Linked DNA regions of Homo sapiens. The protein of the gene in region 1 purifies or fractionates together with the protein of each later gene. This does not show direct contact. Each region holds a gene or a part of one and is shown on either strand. Other genes may lie near its edges.

The links.
Region 2: the proteins of SERHL2 (region 1) and GNB4 purify together in Homo sapiens (affinity purification with mass spectrometry; one large-scale study listed by BioGRID and IntAct). This does not show direct contact.
Region 3: the proteins of SERHL2 (region 1) and CSNK1G3 purify together in Homo sapiens (affinity purification with mass spectrometry; 2 studies listed by BioGRID and IntAct, with this or other methods). This does not show direct contact.

The regions. Positions count from the first base shown.
Region 1 is NC_000022.11:42,560,340-42,563,993, forward strand, and holds part of SERHL2 (serine hydrolase-like protein 2), read left to right. Parts: intron 1-3,049; coding exon of another isoform or gene 3,050-3,130; intron 3,131-3,654. UniProt on the Homo sapiens protein: Probable serine hydrolase. May be related to cell muscle hypertrophy.
Region 2 is NC_000003.12:179,441,389-179,445,042, reverse strand, and holds part of GNB4 (guanine nucleotide-binding protein subunit beta-4), read left to right. Parts: intron 1-3,654. UniProt on the Homo sapiens protein: Guanine nucleotide-binding proteins (G proteins) are involved as a modulator or transducer in various transmembrane signaling systems.
Region 3 is NC_000005.10:123,588,600-123,592,253, forward strand, and holds part of CSNK1G3 (casein kinase I isoform gamma-3), read left to right. Parts: intron 1-1,810; coding exon 1,811-1,959; intron 1,960-2,719; coding exon 2,720-2,815; intron 2,816-3,654. UniProt on the Homo sapiens protein: Serine/threonine-protein kinase. Casein kinases are operationally defined by their preferential utilization of acidic proteins such as caseins as substrates. It can phosphorylate a large number of proteins. Participates in Wnt signaling.

The DNA.
Region 1 (3,654 bases):
GACCAGGCAGGATACTAAGCGCTTTGCAAACAGCATCTCACTGAATCCCCCTCCTGCCTCACCCTCATCCCATTTAGAGCAGGAGAAACCAAGGCTCAGCATTGCCAAGCAACCCGGGTGAGGCCATACAGTTACTGCACATCCCAGAAAGCCACGCTCTGGGAGAGTTTGGTCAGGTGTCTTGGACTAAATGTTGGTGAATGTCACGGCCATGCTCTGCTGGATCTGGGGTGGGTGCCCAGCGCCAGAGGCAGGCTGTGAGGACGTCCCAGGGGCTGAGTGACTTGGGAGAGGCTTTTCACAATGGAGAGGTGGAGCTGGTATGTCTTGGTTTCAGAGCAGCTTCTGGCACAAGCGATTTGTGTACTTTGCTTTTTACCCAGGAATTTTTTTTCTTTCGTTCTTTTTTCTTATGAGACAAGGTCTCGCTCTGTCACCTAGGCTGGAGTGCGGTGGCACCATCATGGCTCACTGCAGCCTCCACCTCCCGGGCTCCAGAGATCGTCCCACCTCAGCCTCCTGAGTAGCTGGGACTACAGGTGTGAGCTACTGTGCCTGGCCCAGGAAATCTTTTGTAAGGGCCTGCTACAGGCCCGGCTCAGTGAGGCTGCAGTGAGCAAGAGCCGACTGTCCCTCTCTCAGTGGGGCCAGACCTCCCGCACCACAACTCCAGGGGCTGCTGTGCACAAATGGCGCCCCCTGGAGTTGAGTAAGGAAGAGTCTGGGCAGAGGCCTAGATTCTTGGAAGAGAAGCAGATGATACACAGGTGAACAGGCACATGAGTGGTTAGACATTCTCTAGATGTAATGAAGGAAATACATGGTGCTCTAGAAGAGACTCATGGCGGGGCCTGCTTCAGAGCAGTGGTCCAGGAAGCAGCTCTCCCAGGGTGAGGGAACAGCTGGAGGGAGATGGTGTCGTCGGATGGAAAATGTGCTAAGCTGGGCAACACAACTTTGCTTCCTGACACTGCCAGCTCAGTGATCTTGGGACAGTCCCTTCCCTTTTAGACTCCCCTTGTTTGCTCAGGTGACAAACAAGGTCTTGGGTTTTTTGCGCTCATTGGACCAGGTGAGGTGGGCATGTGCCTTCCCTTTATAAAGTGCTGAGTGAGGCAGGGGGTCAGAAACTCCAGCACCTGGGGGCGGGGGTGGGGGCGTGTTGTGGAGTTGAGGGTGCAGGCCGGGAGGGAGGCTATGGGCTGTGTAGGGACTTTGGAGCTGGAGGCAGCCCACCCTGGTAGGCAGCTGGGCCGGTGCTAATCAAGTGGGAATTCAGTCTCGTGTGGCCAGAATTACCAGTTGCTCAGCTCTGCAGTTGATCTGCTGAGGTGAGTATTTTTAGTTGTCTTGAGTCCAGAAATGGACAGCATCCCCCGAGGGTCTAAGGAGCGGCACCTGTGGGCTGTTTTGGCCTCGGGTCGCCAGTTTGGGACCAGTTGGGTCTTCGTGATCATCTTGGCTGAACCTTTATCTTGCCTCCCTGGAAACCCATCATGGGGAGGGGAGGTCAAGGACCCCGGGCCCAGGCTTCCTGGACATGCCTCACGGATGGCTGACCTAGGGAGCCCCAGGCACAGAAGTGAGCTAATCTGGAATGAGGCCGGGGAATTCGATTAGGCCCAGGTCACAGGAAACAGTGAATGCAGGATGCTGACCAGGCACCCCTATGTGGGTGTCAGGGGGGTGAGGGAACAGGCAAGAGGGAGGGCTGAGAAAGAGGTGAACCCTGGGTCTGGGGGAAGTGGTCAGCTGGCTGGAACGTTGTGTGCAGACAAGCCCTCTGCAGCAGTTGTGGCCTTTTGGGACCCAGCATTAACCTAAAAGAAGACAGTACCCAGCCAGAACCCCCCACCCAGTGCCTCAAGGACAATGTAGGTTCCTCCCAAATGCTTCCCTCCAACCCCAGGGCCCCTGAGAGTTCACATTCTATTCTGAACTGGGATAACTTCCCTTCCCTGCCCCCATCATCCAACCTGATTCCTCCAGAATCTGGAGCTTAAACAACCAAGACACATTCCCCCACAGTTCCGGAGTTCAGGGTCCAAGGTCAAGGCCTCGGCAGGGCTGGTTCCTTCTGAGGGCTGTGAGGGAGTATCTGTTCCCACCTCTCTGGCTGCTGGGAGCCTCAGGAGCCCGTTGGCTTGTGTGTGAGGTTCTCTGGGTGGGTTACAGAGTGCGTGAGAAGGGGAGGGCTCGTGGAGGACGCAGAGTGGGGAGGGCAGCGAGCATTGTTGGAGAGGCTGCAGCTCCACTTCCTCTTTTGAATAGGAAGGTCTGGGTGGGCCTCATGAGAAGGTGACTTTTGAGCAAAGCAGTGAAGGTACGGGAGCTGCTCCTACGGACTCCAGGAGGAGAAAGGAGCTGGCAGGACAGGCCTGGAGGTGTGAGCTGGTGGTGCAGGATGGGGAGAGAGCAGCAGAGATGAGCTCTTTATCTTCTCATCTAAGTTTAAGCCCCACAATACTGGCTTTCTGGAAACCATCTTGAGGTGTTCCCATGAAGGAGGGAGGGGCCCACTCTGCCTGGGGTGCCCTAAGGACAGAGGGACAGTCTGTGTCAGTCTGGCCCCTGGCCAAGCGTATTCACACATGCCTGTAATCCCAGCACTTTGGGAGTCCAGGTGGGAGGACTGTTTGAGGCCAGGAGTTCAAGACCAGCCTGGGCAATATAGGGAGACACCCCCATCTCTACAAAAAATTCAAAAATAAACGGCATGGTGGCACACCTGTGGTCCCAGCTACTTAGGAGGCTGAAGTGGGAGACTCACATGAGCTCAGGAGTCGGAGGCTGCATTGAACCTTGATTGTGCCACTGCACTCTAGCAAGACCCTGGCTTTTTCTTTTTTTCTTTTTTTTTTTTTTTGTTGTTGTTGTTGTTTTCAACAGGGTCTTGCTCTGTCACTCAGGCTGGAATGCAGTGGCGTGACCATGGCTCACTGCAGCCTTGGCCTCATGGGCTCAGGCGATCCTCCTACCTCAGCCTCTTGAGTAGCTGGGACCACAAGTGTGCAGACCACACCTGGCTAATTTTTGTATTTTTTTGTAGAGATGGAGTTTCGCCATGTTGCCCAGGCTGGTCTCGAACTCCTGAACTCAAGCGATCCTACTGACTCGACCTCCCAAAATGGTAGGATTACAGGTGTGAGTCACCATGCCCAGCCAACCCTGTCTTAAAAACAAAACAAAAATATCTGGCCCCTGAAGCCCCGTGCTGTGGGGGAGGCTCAAATCTTTCTCATAAGCTGGACTGCATACAGGTTGCAGATAATAATTTGTTTAACTTGTGCAGTTTAATCAAAAACATTTGGCATGGGGGGAATTTTGAATAGATTGCCCACATTTTATTTTTTATTATACTCTTTTTATTTTTTGGAGGAAGGGCCCAAGGACCAGAGCAGAAGGGCTATTATTTTAAATAGAAAGATTTTATGTAAAAATACAGATTTCTAGACCAGGCACAGTGGCTCATGCCTGTAATCCCAGCGCTTTGGGAGGCTGAGGTGGGTGAATCACCTGATGTTGGGAGTTCGAGACCACCCTGACCAACATGGAGAAACCCCGTCTCTACTAAAAATACAAAAGTAGTTGGGCGTGATGGCGCATGCCTGTAATCCCAGCTACTGGGGAGGCTGAGGCAAGAGAATCGCTTGA
Region 2 (3,654 bases), on another chromosome or scaffold:
TTTTTTTTTAATGGCAACACTTAGCAATGGCTTGACTCATTTTTTTTCTCCTTATTTTTATATTCAGTTTTTCAACTAAACACCTTTACCCAGAGATTGTTTAAAATATGAAAATTTGTCATTAACTACTTGGTAAGTGAAATTAAAAACCCAGTAAGGCAGCTTAAGCTGAATGAGGTTTTATGTCTAATTGGCATGTGACGTAAATTATATACATTATGTTTAGGATAGTTAAAAAGGCTTACCGTGGCTAGTTTTTATAAGGAAATAATTTAAGACATTCTAGAATTCTGCAAATTAAATTATATATGTATGCATGTATATACTTTTTGAGACAGAGTCTCTCTCTGTCACACAGACTGGAGTGCAGTGGTACGATCATGGCTTACTACAGCCTTGACTTCCCAGGCTCAAGCAATCCTCACATCTCAGCCTCTTAAGTATCTGGGACTATAGGTGCATGCCACCGTGCCGATGAAACTGTGTATTTAAATGGAACATGGTAGGCAGTTAAGTACTTGAGGAAATTGAAATTTGTCAACAAGGGATCTTAGTTATCTGTATTACGTATTAAAAGGGCTCTAGGGAAGCGGTTGAGAGGTTAAAAAAAAAAAAAAAACACCCTGAAAAATGTGATCTCCTTGCCGTGTGGTCTAAAAAACAAAAAACTTAGTAATTAAAAATTTTAAACTTAGATATTAGTTTTCATGGTTTGTGTTAACCTTACTATGGGAATTAAAATTTATGAACAGGAGATTTCATTTGGTTCATTAATTATTGAATATATCACCAGGGAAACTCTTTGGGGGGAAAAAAATGAAAAAACCACAGACTCCTCCTGGCTGTAAGACATAAAGAAAATAGAGATAGGTTAGTATGTAAATTTCATTCATGTTTATGTGTTGACTCACCTTTTAATGCAAAAAAATCTTTGCAAAGGTTTTAGAAATGATGAGACAGATTATGAGAGGATGCTGAAGAATCGGGGGGATTGTGTGTTCCCTTAAGGCATTGAAGAGCAGTCTTGGTATATGTGATAGAGAGTGTTGTAGGATAAAAACGTGAATAGGAAAATCAGCAGTAGAACAAAACTAAATGGGACTAAATGTAACTAAAAATGAATATTCTATTCGAACTGCATGGTAGAGATAAGACCCTTTGAATGATAGATTCCGAGAACATTAGTGGTGGGGTAGAGAATTGGGGATGGGATAGAATCCCAAATAACTTCAGTTATTAATTAGCTGCTAATCTAAACCTGAGACAGTAATTGTATAGTATTTTTGTAAATGAAGTGTCATCCTGAGGTAGCAGAGATGGATATCTGCTCATCTCAGAACAGTATCACCATAAGTACACTTGCTTGTTAACTAAAACCTCTAAAATTTTATCTTATAGGTAGGCATTATGGCTTTGTTAAGAAAAATGAAATCTACAGTGAAAGACACTGGATGCTGTATTCTATTTCTACTTATTGGTAACTTTAAGATATTTTACCTGTTTTTTTGAGACGTCTCACTCAGTCACCCAGGCTGGAGTACAGTGGTGAGATCTCGGCTCACTGCAACCTCTTTCTCCCAGGCTCAAAAGATTCTCATGCCTCAGCCTCGCAAGTAGCTGGCATTACAGGCATGCACCACCACACCTGGCTAATTTTTGTATTTTTAGTAGAGATGGGGTTTCACCATGTTGGCCAGGCTGGTCTCGAACTCCTGACCTCAGGTGATCCAACTGCCTCAGCCTCTCAAAGTGCTGGGATTACAGGCATGAGCCACTGTGCCCAGCCATAAGATATTTTACTTTTATTAAAGCTGTGAACATAAGAAATTGTAGCTACTTTTCCGTGACTATGGTAATTGCACATGTTAACATTTTGTCCTATGAAGCGGAGTTAGCAAATAAGCTAGATGGTAATGCTTGTGAGGCACTCATAAACATTTGTTGGATGAAATTCTGATATCCCCAGTTGTCATATTCTAACCCTTTAATGGTGGGATTGATTTTTAAAATTTTTGTATGTAACCAAAAATAATATATAACCAAGTCTGGTAAATTTAAAGGGTTGTTTCTGGTAAAACAAAAGCAAGTTATGTGACTTTAAGTGATACAAAACTGCCGGGTATGGTGGATCACACCTTTCATCCCAGCTACTCAGGAGGCTGAGATGGGAAGACAGTCTGAGCTCAGGATGTCAAGACAGGCCTAGGCAACATAGTAAGGACCCCACCTCTAAAATTTTTTTTTTTTAATTAGCTTGGCATGGTGGTGCATACCTGTAGTTCCAGCAACTTGGTAGGCTGAGGTCGGAGATCGTTTGAGCCACTGGGTTCAAGGCTGCAGTGGTGAGCAAGGATGGCAGTGCCACTGTGCTTTAACCTGGGCGACAGAACAAGACCCCATCTCTTAAAAAAAAAAGTGACATAGGACTGTGGCTTGGTAACACAGAGATAACTACATGTGGTCGTATAAAAAAAAATCCAAGAGATAATAATGCTTGAGTGGGTCATGTAAGAAAAGACAGGCTAAGTGTATGATTTTAAATTTACATAATCATAATTTATGTTTCTAATGTTTAGTTCACAAAATCTTAGAGTACTAAAACCAAGAGGCTCCTCTTAGAGAAGGTAGTTTTAGGACTAAGTAAAAGGAAATGCCCTGCTATTTTACAGAGCTGACGTAAATTGACAGAACTTGTTACTTTTAAGAAGTAGTACAGGTGAAAATATAAGCATACTAAAAATGGGTTCAATGAATTCATGGACAATAGTTTCAAAACGTATTGTGTAAAATTTAAGAGAAATCCTTAGTATGTTGAGTTCAGCCACATTCTCATAAACATTTGGTTTCAATGACGTAATACTTTAAATACAAGTTCTGTCATAGCATTTACACTGTAATATGATTATAGTGATGAGCCCCATAACGATATTTCAGTCGGCCGGGCTTGGTGGCTCACGCCTGTAATCCCAGCACTTTGGGAGGCCGAGACATGTGGATCACCTGAGGTCAGGAGTTTGAGATCAGCCTGACCAACATGGTGAAACCCTGTCTTTACTAAAATACAAAAATTAGCCAGGCGTGGTGGCGGGCACCTGTAATCTCAGCTACTCGGAAGGCTGAGGCAGGAGAATTGCTTGAACCCAGGAGGCGGAGTTTGCAGTGAGCCGAGATCGTGTGCCACTGCACTCCAGCCTGGGCAACAAGAGTGAAACTCCGTCTCAAAAAAATGATGTTTCAGTCAGTGAGTTGACTGTATATAGGGTGATGGTCCCAATTTTTTTTTTTTTTTTTGAGATGGAGTCTCACTCTATCACCCAGTCTGGAGTGCAGTAGTGTGATTTTGGCTCACTGCAACCTCTGCCTCCCGGGTTCAAACGATTCTCCTGCCTCAGTCTCCCAAGTAGCTGGGATTACAGGCGCCGGCCACCCAGCCTGGCTAATTTTTGTTTGTTTGTTTGTTTTTGTATTTTTAGTAAACACAGGGTTTCACCATGTTGGCCAGGCTGGTCTTGAACTCCTGACCTCAGGTGGTCCACCTGCCTTGGCCTCCAAAATTGCTAGAATTACAGGCATGAGCCACCATGCCTGGCTTTACCATGTTTTTACTGTCTTTTCTATATTTAGATATGTTTAGATACACAAATATTTACCATG
Region 3 (3,654 bases), on another chromosome or scaffold:
TGCTTAAAAAAAAAAGAGCTAAAAATATGATTTAAAGGTTGTCAGCATTTGATGCCGAACCCACAGGGACACTTTGTGTATTTGCTTTGCAAATGGTATTAATAGAAGAAAATCCTGTCTGTTAATAGTGTTGATCATTACCAGCTGAAGTAATATTTTCTTTAGTGATATACTTTTAATGAGTTAAAATTTTTGCTAAGAAATGCCAGTTACAAAGTTTTGGTATTCAGTGTTAGTCATTTGGGTCTCAATGTCAAGTTCAAAGGAGGTATGTGAAGTATGATTTGGTTTAGTTTTCAAATTAAACTTAAATTAAGTAAGGCCAGTAAAACCTTACTGACCTCACTAGTTTGGGGCTAATTTTATATTGGGGAGCTGTATGCATTTATGAAAATAATTTTGCTTTCAAGTAGATTTATGGCAACTCAAATTAAGCCAAAAAAAATTTACTTAAGATTTCTACATCAATTAAGGAATAAGAATAACTTGTTAGTATATTAAGATAATGACTGTGATTTATTTGTGCAGCCACATTAAGTGAAAAGAGAGCTAAATTTGAAGATAAAATACGGAATTCCTATCTCACTTTAGTATTCCGTAGTTCTCCTGTATAATGCTGGCGTTATTAATGTAATAATAATATTATCAACATAACAAAAGTAGCTCTTTCTCAAGCTTGTTTATATTATTCATTGACAGCAAACTTTAATTATATATTTTCCTTTCTTGCTATAATATCTAGAAGTAGATTTTTTAAAATGTCGGTTAATAGTACTAGCAGTTTAGTGTAGGCAGATAGGGTAGTTGTCATTAAGGAAGCCTATATAAAGGTGGGAAAAATGGGGTTGCCAAATCAAATTAGCCAGGTATTTAGCTAGAAAGTGGAATAGTGGGAGAGTCACCACCTAAAGAAGGTCACTGCACACCACTTTTGTTGCCTCATTGTGCTGGGTGTGATCTTTTTCCTGTTGGCTGGGGCTGCCTGTGAATGCTAGGTGTAACTTACCATCTCTTACTGTAGTGATTTTCTGTGCCCTGATGGTGAAATGCCCTGCTTTACTAATTGCTCACCATTTTGCCCATTGTTTTATATTTATATATTTGTTTGTCTGTTTGTTTGTTTTTGCATGTATTAGATACATGTATCTAATACATTTTGGAATTATAATAGCATGCAGAGATTTGTATATCGCCAAATAATTGTTAAATATATGACCAGAAATTAAGAGAAGACTTACACTGTCCTCTTGTGTTATGTTTTTGAGATTTGTTTTAGCTTTCCTTTGTTAGCTTAATTGGTTAGAATACTGCTCAAAGCCAAGGTTAGGAATTTGAATTCTCTATTAGTTAGTTGGTTTATGTCACTGATTCTAAAGGAAATCCAGCAAGCCAATACAGATGCTTTCATATAAATCAGTTCTCACCGGTATTTTAAATAAAATTTTAAATTTATAAACTGAATATGATGCTTTGTGATTAATCATGCATTATTAAACTGCTTATTCAACTTCTCATACTACCAAATATTAAAAATAATCTTATAAAAATGAAAATTTTAGCTTTTCCTAATGAAATGAAGCAAAAATAGTGGTTGTTAAACTAAACCTCCCATTTTTCTTGTGTCTCTATTCCCTTCCTTCTTTTCCTCTTTTTTATTTTGTTGTAATTAAACTCAGAAAAATTTAAATTGCAATGTAATTTTGTTACTTTTCAAGTGTTTTTATATAATACAATGTGCTTTTAGATACTTAATTTTATTACTGAGTATTAAAGAAAAGTATAGTCCAAATAATTTTTATATTATTTCTAGAAGAAATGGCAACATATCTTCGTTATGTAAGAAGGCTAGATTTTTTTGAAAAACCAGACTATGACTACTTAAGAAAGCTTTTTACTGACTTGTTTGATCGAAAAGGATATATGTTTGATTATGAATATGACTGGATTGGTAAACAGTTGGTGAGTATTCTATATAATAATATATTACTTACAGTATCTGTTGCCTTTTTAATAGTACAATATCTTCAATTGAAAAGAGTTGAGAACAAATAGTTGTTTTAAAGGATTCATTTTATTGTTTTTTAAGGGACATTTCTGCAGGTAGTGCCGTACTAGTGTTCTTTGAGTTTTTCAGAAGCCCTACATCTGGATTCTTTGCCTTTTAGCATGAAGAGTTACTTTTAACTTTTCATCCTGATTTAGTTCTTAATGTCAAATATACTCTTTTTTGTGTAATATTCTCATGATTAATTTAATACTTCAATCCCTTGATGAAAATTAAAATTTGTATGAGTCTCTTCAAGTCAAAATATTGGAAATAAGTAATTTTATTAGTTTTTTTATTCTTTTAATTTTCTTAAAAGTTTATTCTATGTATACATTTGCTTTGGAAATGAGAGGCATAAACATATACATTTTTATCATGTTGATATGAAAATGTAGCCTAAAAGTAATGGCAGCATTAAGTGTTCTGTAGATGTAAAAATAAGTACTTTATAAAGAATTTGAATATTTTAAAAACACTTTAAAAAGTAGGTATATTCTTTTTGCTTTACCTTCTTAGCTTTAACAACATATTTTGATAATGATGCCTTTACTTAAAGCCTTAGTTTATTTAACAGTCTTTTGTTTTTTTCCTTAATTCTTTTAAGCAGCTAAATGATTTTAAATAAGAATTTTAAAATGGAATGTATTGATACCAATTGTTATTGTATTGTAGCCTACTCCAGTGGGTGCAGTTCAGCAAGATCCTGCTCTGTCATCAAACAGAGAAGCACATCAACACAGAGATAAGATGCAACAATCCAAAAACCAGGTTTGCTGCCCTTTAGATATGAAATACCTTCCTTTCATGATTGAAACATACACTTTTTTCTTCAATAGATAAAACAGACTGAAGGATTGAAAATACATATTTTTAATAGATAATCTATTTTCTCTTAATTTCACTGTTTATTAGTTTAATAATAGCATTAAAATGTTTAATCATAAATCCTTAATTAATGGTACAAATTAGTGTAAACTTTTAGGAATATGTGATATTCTGTTAGAATGGAAGTATTTGGATACCCTATTAGAATGAATTGTAATAACACTTGGACTTTCTAACTGTAGTTTAGTTCAATAAATTATTTATTGAATTTCTGCTATTGTAAAGCTACTGTTCTACACATTATAGAAATTCAGAAGTAAAGAAGACTGTATAACCTTTAAGAATGATTTTGTCACCAGTGTCTAAAAGCAGTGTTGTAGCTAAGAGTTCACTCAATTCTTTAGAATCAGGCATACATGGATATGGCTTGACCCTGGGCAAATAAGTTAATCTGTCAAAGCCTCAGTTTCCTCATCTATAAAATGGAAATAATGCATGTTAATTTAGAGCATACAGTAAGCTTTGAATCAAAACTCTTGTGTCTGCTGTTACTGTTATTATTATTACAATAAATACAGAAATAGCTATATTTAAAAAGAGAATAAGCTATATTACATGAAACACTAATAAAGTAGCATGGAGATCATATGTGGGGCTCTATGAAGATTTTATGGAAAAGGTAGCTTTTGACATGAACCTAAAGAATGAATGGAGTTTTTAAAGGGAAATGAAGATAAGGGCATTTTGGGGAGAGTGAATAATATAAAATATGAAGCAGAAGT